Homo sapiens: one gene and its partner. The protein of the gene in region 1 purifies or fractionates together with the protein of each later gene. This does not show direct contact. Each region holds a gene or a part of one and is shown in the gene's direction. Other genes may lie near its edges.

Region 1 (3,953 bases):
GACTGGTCTGGACAACATAGCAAGACGCTGTCTCTACCAAAAATTAAAAATTAGCCAGGTGTGGTGGCATACGCCTGTAATCCCAGCTACTGGAGAGACTGAAGCAGGAAGATTTCTTGAGTCCAGGAGATGGAGGATGCAGTGAGCATGCCACTGTACTCTAGCCTGGGCCACAGACCCTGTCTCTTAAAAGAAACCTGCACCCTTTATCACCCCCTACTCCCCTCTTCCTCCCATCCCTAAGCAATCATTAATCAACTTTCTGTGTCTGTATATGTACTTGCCTATTGTGGACATTTCATATCAATGGAATCACACAACACGTGGACCTTTGTGGCTGTCTTCTTTGACTTAGCACGTGTTTAAGGTTCGTTCCTATTGTAGCATGTATCAGTAGTTCATTTTTATGGCCGAATAGTACATTTTATGGATGTATCACATTTATCCACTCATCGCTTGACGGACATTAGCGTTGTTCCCATCTTTTGATTGTTAGAATGTAATCAACATTTGTGTACAAGTTTTGTGTGGAGGTATGTTTCCACTTTTCTTAGAGGAGTGGAATTACTGGGTCAAATGGTCACTCTTGTTTGACTTTAAGGAAAGGACAGGTTATTTTCCAAGACAGCTGCACCATTTGACATTCTCACTTCTGGGGTATGAGGGAACACATTTTTATTTCCCGCTAAATCAGGTTCATTTTTTAGTTTCTGCTGGAGGCTACTAGCAAACAGCAGAAACTTGAAAGACTGTTAATATTCTTTCTTCTGGGGTTTCGGGCACCAGGGAAGCTGCGCGGCCCCTAGGAGTGCTGGGGGTAACCTCTTCAGAGGGTTAATGGGGTGGGGGGGGGGCAAGTGGCCGACGGCCTGGTGGCCAGGGTGCCCCGCGCCCTGAGGCCCTGCCCGCCTGCCAGCGCCTGCGAGCCCGAGTGACCCCTGCGCCGCGGCCGGAGCAGGTGCCCTCTGTGTCTGCGGGCCCAGCCAAGCCGTGGTGCGGACGGCGGATGATGCTGGGTGCCCGCCCCCCGGCCTGAGGCCCGGGGCTACGCCCGCTAGGCGGCGGCGCGACCGCTGGGGGCGGGGGACGAAGGCCGCGCCCCTGCGCCCGTCCCGCCAGCGTCCCGCTGGGGGCGGCGGCCTGTCCCGAGCCCGCCCAGGCTCTTCCGCGCCGGCAGGGGCAGCAGCGGGAGCAGCGCGGGGCGGAGCGGCGCCAGCAGCCAGGAGCGGCCCGGCCCGGCCCGGCGCGGCGGCGGCGGCGGCAGCGGCAGCGGCAGCGACGCCAGAGCCCGTGGGCGCCGTTCGCGAGGCCGCCGCAGAGGCCCGGCCGCAGCGCAGGGAAGCCTGGGGGCCAGAGGTCGCCGCTGCCGCCATGCCGCTGCTCTTCCTCGAGCGCTTCCCCTGGCCCAGCCTCCGCACCTACACGGGCCTCAGCGGCCTGGCCCTGCTGGGCACCATCATCAGCGCCTACCGCGCGCTCAGCCAGCCCGAGGCCGGCCCCGGCGAGCCGGACCAGCTAACGGCCTCGCTGCAGCCTGAGCCGCCGGCGCCCGCCCGGCCGAGCGCCGGGGGACCCCGGGCCCGCGATGTGGCCCAGTACCTGCTCTCAGACAGCCTCTTCGTGTGGGTGAGCGAGGCGGCCGGGCCCGCGGGGCAGGGGCGGGGTCCGCTGCGTCACCCTTTATCCGCGGGGGCGTGGTGGGCCTAGGGGCCCCTCCGCCAGGGACCCCCGAGGGCGAGCGCCTGGGGGGCGCGGCCTTGCTCGCGGGAGCGCTGCTGAGGGAGAGTGGTGAGGCGCGGGGAGGGGGAGGGGGCCGCGGGCGGGAGGAACATCGCGTGGGGTTGCGAGGAGGAGGCCCCGAGGGGCAGGCCAGCGTTGAGGGCTCCGGGAAGGGGGTCGGGGAGGCGGCGGGTGATGGTCTGCGCTGGGGCGCGGACGGGGCCTGGGGCAGGGGAAGGGGTTAAGGGGCAGTGGGGAGGAACGGGCTGGGTTTTCTGAGGGACCCTCGGGAGAAACTAGAAGATCTCAGAGGGCAGGTTCAAGGGGAGGTCGGGATCTGGGAGTGCGTTATCCCGAGGGTTGGACGAAGTAGAGTGAAGTTGAAAGCTTTTCCCACTTGGTCAGGCATGGGATTGTTAGCGGATTTTCTTCCGACGAAGAGGAGAGGGCAGAGGGGAGAATTCAGACGTTGAGTATGGGGGAATTTTCGGCACTCAGGTGTCTTTGGACATTCCGGTTGGAGAGAGGCCGTCTCCCACAACTTTTTTGCCGCTTAGTATTCGATTGTCCCCTTTGGGAGCTGTGTAATGAAACAAACACCAAACTGTGCTTCCTTTTCTGCTGCCTTTACCTGATGTTCATGACAGTTTTCCTTTGATGTCTGAACGCAGCAAAACATTCACAGTGTCAAGAGGCAGCCCATCATTTTAACTGAATGTTTCTTATTTGAGGATCTATTCTAACACAGTTTCCAGGTTGTCTGCCCCTGCGAGATAAGCAGCATTGATAAGGCACACATGCTGGTTTCGTTCATTAGAACAGATAATTTCAGACTGATCAGATCAACGGTATTTTGGCTAGAGAATTTTGCTTTCATCTTGGCCTTGAATACTTATGTAAATCCCGCAGTGATCAGAAAAGTTTCTCCAGGATTTAAAGCCTCACTTGGATTTAATATGGCTTCTTGGATCTTGTCTCCTTGCATGTTCCCATTTGGGGTTGAAAGTGGGCTGTAAATGACTGAGAGATTAATATTCCAAGTTGATAGTATGATATGCAACTCATTTGTTATAATTAGTCCCACTGTGCTTCATCAGGAAGCGGTGGGATTTATGGACTCTGTGGGCTGTAGATTAAGTCTCCTGGTCCTTCTGATGGAGAGTTTAGTAGAAGGCAGTGAAGGGTGAAGTTCCTGTTTATCTACTGCTGTGTAAAGCTGAACTTTACAGTCCTAAAGAAGGGAGAAGCGAAAGAACTCAACTCACATCTCTTGCTTAATTTCAAATCTGTTTTTGCATTTGAGTTAGCAGGTAAACAAAGTGATATGGAGAGTGTTTTTGCCATGTTAAGATTATAATGTAGTCTTTGATATTTTTTAAGTCTAAGATATAAATAAGCCTTTGAGAAGGAACCCTTATTTTATTTATATAACAACACTGGTATTGTTTAATGGATTTCCCCCCGCAGGACTTTATTTTGATAAAAGCCATGTTCAGATTCTAAAGTTAATATCTCTTCAGAAAACATTACATAAAAGCTGTTGATTTTTCTGTGATGATGATTACTTTTTAGGAAATTTCCTTTTCTTCCAGCATTTTCAGTAGAGGTCTTACCTCTGGCAGGTTTATCACTTCTTACTCTCCGCTGATGATATTTTCATTTCTCAGTTGATCCTAGTGCTGTTTTTCTTCCATCTTTCCTCTGGGGTCTCCACGTGTTTACTTTGGCCTGCTTTGGTTTCTCAGACCCTCCATGTGCTCACTGTTTGTCTCATCACTCAGTGTATATGTAGTTTCTGCTTTAGCAGCTGAGTAGAAGTGACAATCTCAAAAGCCTTCCCCAGTGGTGGGACAGATTAAGATTGTTGAGTGAATACCCTATGTGGTGGTGCCTTTGTCAACTGGATCCTCCTTGCGCCCTCCCCTAGTTCTATTGAATTCAGATTCAACTTTTTCACGAACACTGCCTGCCAAGGCCAAGCAAGACAAAACAAAGACTGATCCTTCTGCCAGTGCAAGTCCTGCTAGATATTAACATATTGTAATTCCCAAAACTTATCTTTTTAGAGCACAGTTTAGAATAATATCGGTCTGATAGCATCACAGGAGGTTTTTCATGAACAAACACAATTTAAAACCTTTCGAAGGTGTTATTTTGGGCACTTTGGAGGGCATATCTGTGAACAACACTTTCCCCTACCCTCAGTAATATGGCAAAATTTTATAGGGGATAAT
Region 2 (4,110 bases), on another chromosome or scaffold:
ATCTACGAATCACAGATTTAGCACACTGGCTGGCACTTATGAGCACTGAAAATGCTTTTTTTTTTTTAGTACTCCATAGCCTATCCCTTTCATTTAGCTGGGTAGTGTGGTCAATTTTCCCCATAACATGCGTTCTCACATAATTGCATGTATTTCTGGGGTACAGTGTGATGGTTCCATACATATACACATTGTGCAACCATCTAATCAGGGTAATTAGCACATCCATCACCAAAACACTTGTCATTTCTTTGTGGTGAGAATATTCAAAATCCTCTCTTCTAGCTATTTTGAAGTTAACATTATCGTTGAGTATAGTCATCCAAACGTGCAAGAGAATACCAAAACTTATTCCTTCTAACTATAACTTTGTGTCTGTTGACCAACCTCTCCCCATCTTCCTCCCCACTAACTCTCCTCTGTACAAGAATAACCACTCTTTTACTCCCTACTTTCACGAGATCAACTTAAAAAAAAACTTTTTAAAACGACTGCATGATATGTTTTCAGGCTCACACATTTAAAAACCGTGACTTTGGCAAAGAGTAACTTCATTCTGCTGGGGAAAAAAATTTAAATGGCCTGAGTCCGGAAGCTCGCCAGGGCAGAAGCGCAGGGTCGCTCCGCCGGGCTCGCCGGGCCGGGGACCCCCCAGCCACCCGCCACCACGGCGGGGAGGGCAGGGTGCTGACTCCAGGGACCACGACAGTCGGCCCCGGTGGTGGGGATTCCGCGCGGGACCCACGCGGGAACAAAGAGGCGGCTGGACGGCCCAGCTCTCCGCACCCGGAAGGACCTGTTCCACCTCTCCGGCTCCCGTACCCCTCTATCCGCATCTGAGTGACCAGATCCCACTGCAGTCAACAGCCCGCGGGGTAGCCAGCTTCGAGGGACCGCCCGGAAAGACACAACGCGCGTGGAAGGCGCCGGGCGTCCAGTCTCGGGAGAGATTAGAAGTGGCGCTCCTGCCCAGCGCCGGCAATCCAGGGGAATCCGCGGCCATCGCGGATCCACCAGGGGTGAGGCGGCACTGAGCACAAGTGTGAGGCTCTCGGGAGCTACGCCTCCGCTTCCCCAGTGCCACCCGTTTTTACCTCAGGCGGTTCTGACCGCCATCGTTTCAACCTGGAGAGGTGAGCCCTCCCCTACCGACGCACTTCCCTTCCCCGGCAGGAAGGAGGGCGCTGACCCAGCGGGCGCACGCCCCTGACTGCGCATGCGCCGGGTGCGCCGTTCGTCAGCGGCGAGTGGCCTCGCGGCGCCGGATTCGTCGCTCCGCCAAGAGTGCGCCTGCGCGGTCGCTGGGGCTCGCACTTCAGCTTCCCCTCCCCCGGCGCCCTCTGGGGCTCCGAGCCCGGCGGGACCATGTTCACCAGCACCGGCTCCAGTGGGCTCTGTGAGTACCGGCCTCCGCCATCCTGGCTGCCCCCTACACGCCACCCTAGGCACCTCTTTGAGGAGGCTGGGGCAGCGGGGACCCTCGGGTTTGCCGGAGGTGGTGGGGCCGACCCTCCAGACCCGCGTCCGAACCCTGCTAGTTCCCGGTCTTGGGGGTCAGCGGAAACCGCCCCCATTTCGGCCTGGAGGGGCGAATGGGGACAAAGCCCCGCCGCCCGCCCCGACCCCACCTGGTATCCCCAGGTGCTCTGCCCAGGAGTCTCTTGGGGCCGCTGCAAGTGGGCAGGTGCCCTGGTGTTCTCGTGGGCCGGCCCCAGGCCCTTTGCGGAGCGTGTGCCGCGCTGAAGGAAGGGGCCGTCCCCCTTACCATGCCCCATTCTTTTAGGCTTGGGGGACCGAACTAACTCCCCCCGCCCCCACTTGCAAAGTTCAGCCTCCGCTTTAGAAGCTGACCTCTCAGTTTCACTTGGATGTGTTTCTTCTTCAGTCTCCAAGAAGAGTTTTTAGACAAACACACACTGATGAGAGTGCTTTCAAGTGGAGGGAAGTTAGGAAGTCGTGGCGAGGGAGCGCAGCTGTGCTGCTGGATGTTGCTGTTTTCCTGGCGTGTTAGCGGTGGTCAGCAGGTAGGGGGCGGAGTATTTTTACAGCCAGTTAAACGGCTTTTCTCACTGAGTGTGTGGAATTGACTTTCGGTAAGGTAGACTGCGTGTTAACAGTTAGGCACGGGTACAGCAACGGAGAACAGCTCTAATTTTGCAATTGCTTGTCACTGTTCATACTCCATGTGAAGTTAATGCTGCTGGAGGACAGAAACATCTGACATTTCCAAATATTAAAGATCTGTTGGCCGGGCGCGGTGGCTCACGCCTGTAATCCCAGCACTTTGGGAGGCCGAGGTGGGCGGATCACGAGGTCAGGAGATCGAGACCATCCTGGCTAACACGGTGAAACCCCGTCTCTCTACTAAAAACACAAAAAATTAGCTGGGCGTGGTGGCGGGTGCCTGTATTCCCAGCTACTCGGGAGGCTGAGGCAGGAGAATGGCGTGAACCCGGGAGGCGGAGCTTGCAGCGAGCCGAGATTGCGCCACTGCACTTTGGCCTGGGCGACAAAGCGAGACTCCATCTCAAAAAAAAAAAAAAAAAAAAAAGATCTGTTGGGAATGTCATGAATCTTCTGAGAATGTGTGTCTCGTCTTATAGTCTGACAGTGAGTTAGTATCAGCGCCACAGGCATAATTTTAAATCTTCCTCACTTCTCAACTTCTCAGGTTTTGAAGTGGTTTCAATATTTATGATTTCCTTTGTTTCATAATTAATTTGATTTATGGCATCTTTCATGGATTGGTCCCGGAGTATGTTACAACTACTAAGTAATCTTCCCCAAACTACCCTTTAGATAAAGAGCATTAGGACTGTAGCTGAAGCTGACAGTTCAAGAAGGCAATGTGGTTTTCCTGGGATCACACAGTGAGCCAGGAACTACTGGTTATGAAATTAATGGTGGAATTCTTCAATTTCAATTGTTCTTTAGCATTTTGATCTATCCTTGCTGGCCAAAGTACATATAAAAAAATAAAGGGCAAGAGAAATCTTATTGGTTGCTGTACTGTATTAGCCATGAGATTATATTGGCCAAGTGTATTCAAATTTGATACAGGGCAACTGTGGGGAAGATAATATTTTGTTATCTATGGCACATGGTGGTGAGTGTTGAATTCTAGGAACCAAACTGTTGCCCAGGGAGAGGCGTAGGTCTGGAGCCCCTCTGCAGCTGTCTTGGCCTGTTTCTAAAATTAAGTGCTTCTGCAGTGTAAGAGTTGTTGGGATGGCCGTTCCTCAGAAGGCTGTGTCTTACATGCTCATTTTACAAACATTTTGGGCATCTCCTCTGGGCGATGAACTGGGCTAGGTGCTGGGAATGCAGCAACGAACAGGTCCTGGTCTCAGTGCTTACAGTGCTGACGGAGCTTAGGCACAGTTTTCCAGGACTGGTCATTAGAAAAGGCTGTGTGTCAGCTTTAACATTTTTCTCTGGAGAAGCTACCCACTGAGGGAGAAGTGATTTCCTTTGTTTTATTTTATTTATTTATTTATTTATTTATTTATTTATTGAGATGGAGTCTCACTGTTGCCCAGGCTGGAGTGCAGTGGTGGATCTCCGCTCACTGCAACCTCCGCCTCCCGAGTTCAAGCGATTCTCCCGCCTCAGCCTCCCAAGTAGCTGGGATTACAGGTGCCCACCATCACACCTGGCTATTTTTGTATTTTTAGTAGAGACGGGGTTTTGCCATGTTGACCAGGCTGGTCTTGAGCTCCTGACCTCAAGTGGTCCTCCCGCCTCGGCCTCCAAAAGTGCTGGGATTACAGGCGTGAGCCACTGCCTATGATTTCCTTTAGATAAGTTGAGGGACCCTTTAGCAAATCAAAATTCTGATCCTGAGCAAGAATCTGAAAGAAGGACGACACGTGTACCTAGCCCTACCCCCATGGGTGGTGAATAACAGTCCCTTTCCAGGGATAAATCCCTGCCATTTTCTACCACCTGCATGTTTCCCACGTTTTGTGGTTAGTAGATAATAGTATTTTAGTGTTAAACTTGCCTTTCTCTCTCATCCATTCAATAAGTGTCTGTTGGGTACCCATATCAGCCACACACTGTTGATATACAGAGGATAAAGTAATAAGCAGGATCAAGGAGACCAGCATC

What was found. Proteins that work in one complex are often made in the same cells at the same time.
Region 2: the proteins of AMFR (region 1) and UBAC2 purify together in Homo sapiens (affinity purification with western blotting; 4 studies listed by BioGRID and IntAct, with this or other methods). This does not show direct contact.

Annotation. Positions count from the first base shown.
Region 1 is NC_000016.10:56,422,746-56,426,698, reverse strand, and holds the start of AMFR (E3 ubiquitin-protein ligase AMFR), read left to right. Parts: upstream 1-1,153; 5' UTR 1,154-1,371; coding exon 1,372-1,626; intron 1,627-1,709; exon of another isoform or gene 1,710-1,788; intron 1,789-1,964; exon of another isoform or gene 1,965-3,029; intron 3,030-3,953. UniProt on the Homo sapiens protein: E3 ubiquitin-protein ligase that mediates the polyubiquitination of lysine and cysteine residues on target proteins, such as CD3D, CYP3A4, CFTR, INSIG1, SOAT2/ACAT2 and APOB for proteasomal degradation.
Region 2 is NC_000013.11:99,199,544-99,203,653, forward strand, and holds the start of UBAC2 (ubiquitin-associated domain-containing protein 2 isoform 1 precursor), read left to right. Parts: upstream 1-1,310; 5' UTR 1,311-1,365; coding exon 1,366-1,396; exon of another isoform or gene 1,397-1,868; coding exon of another isoform or gene 1,869-2,024; intron 2,025-4,110. UniProt on the Homo sapiens protein: Restricts trafficking of FAF2 from the endoplasmic reticulum to lipid droplets.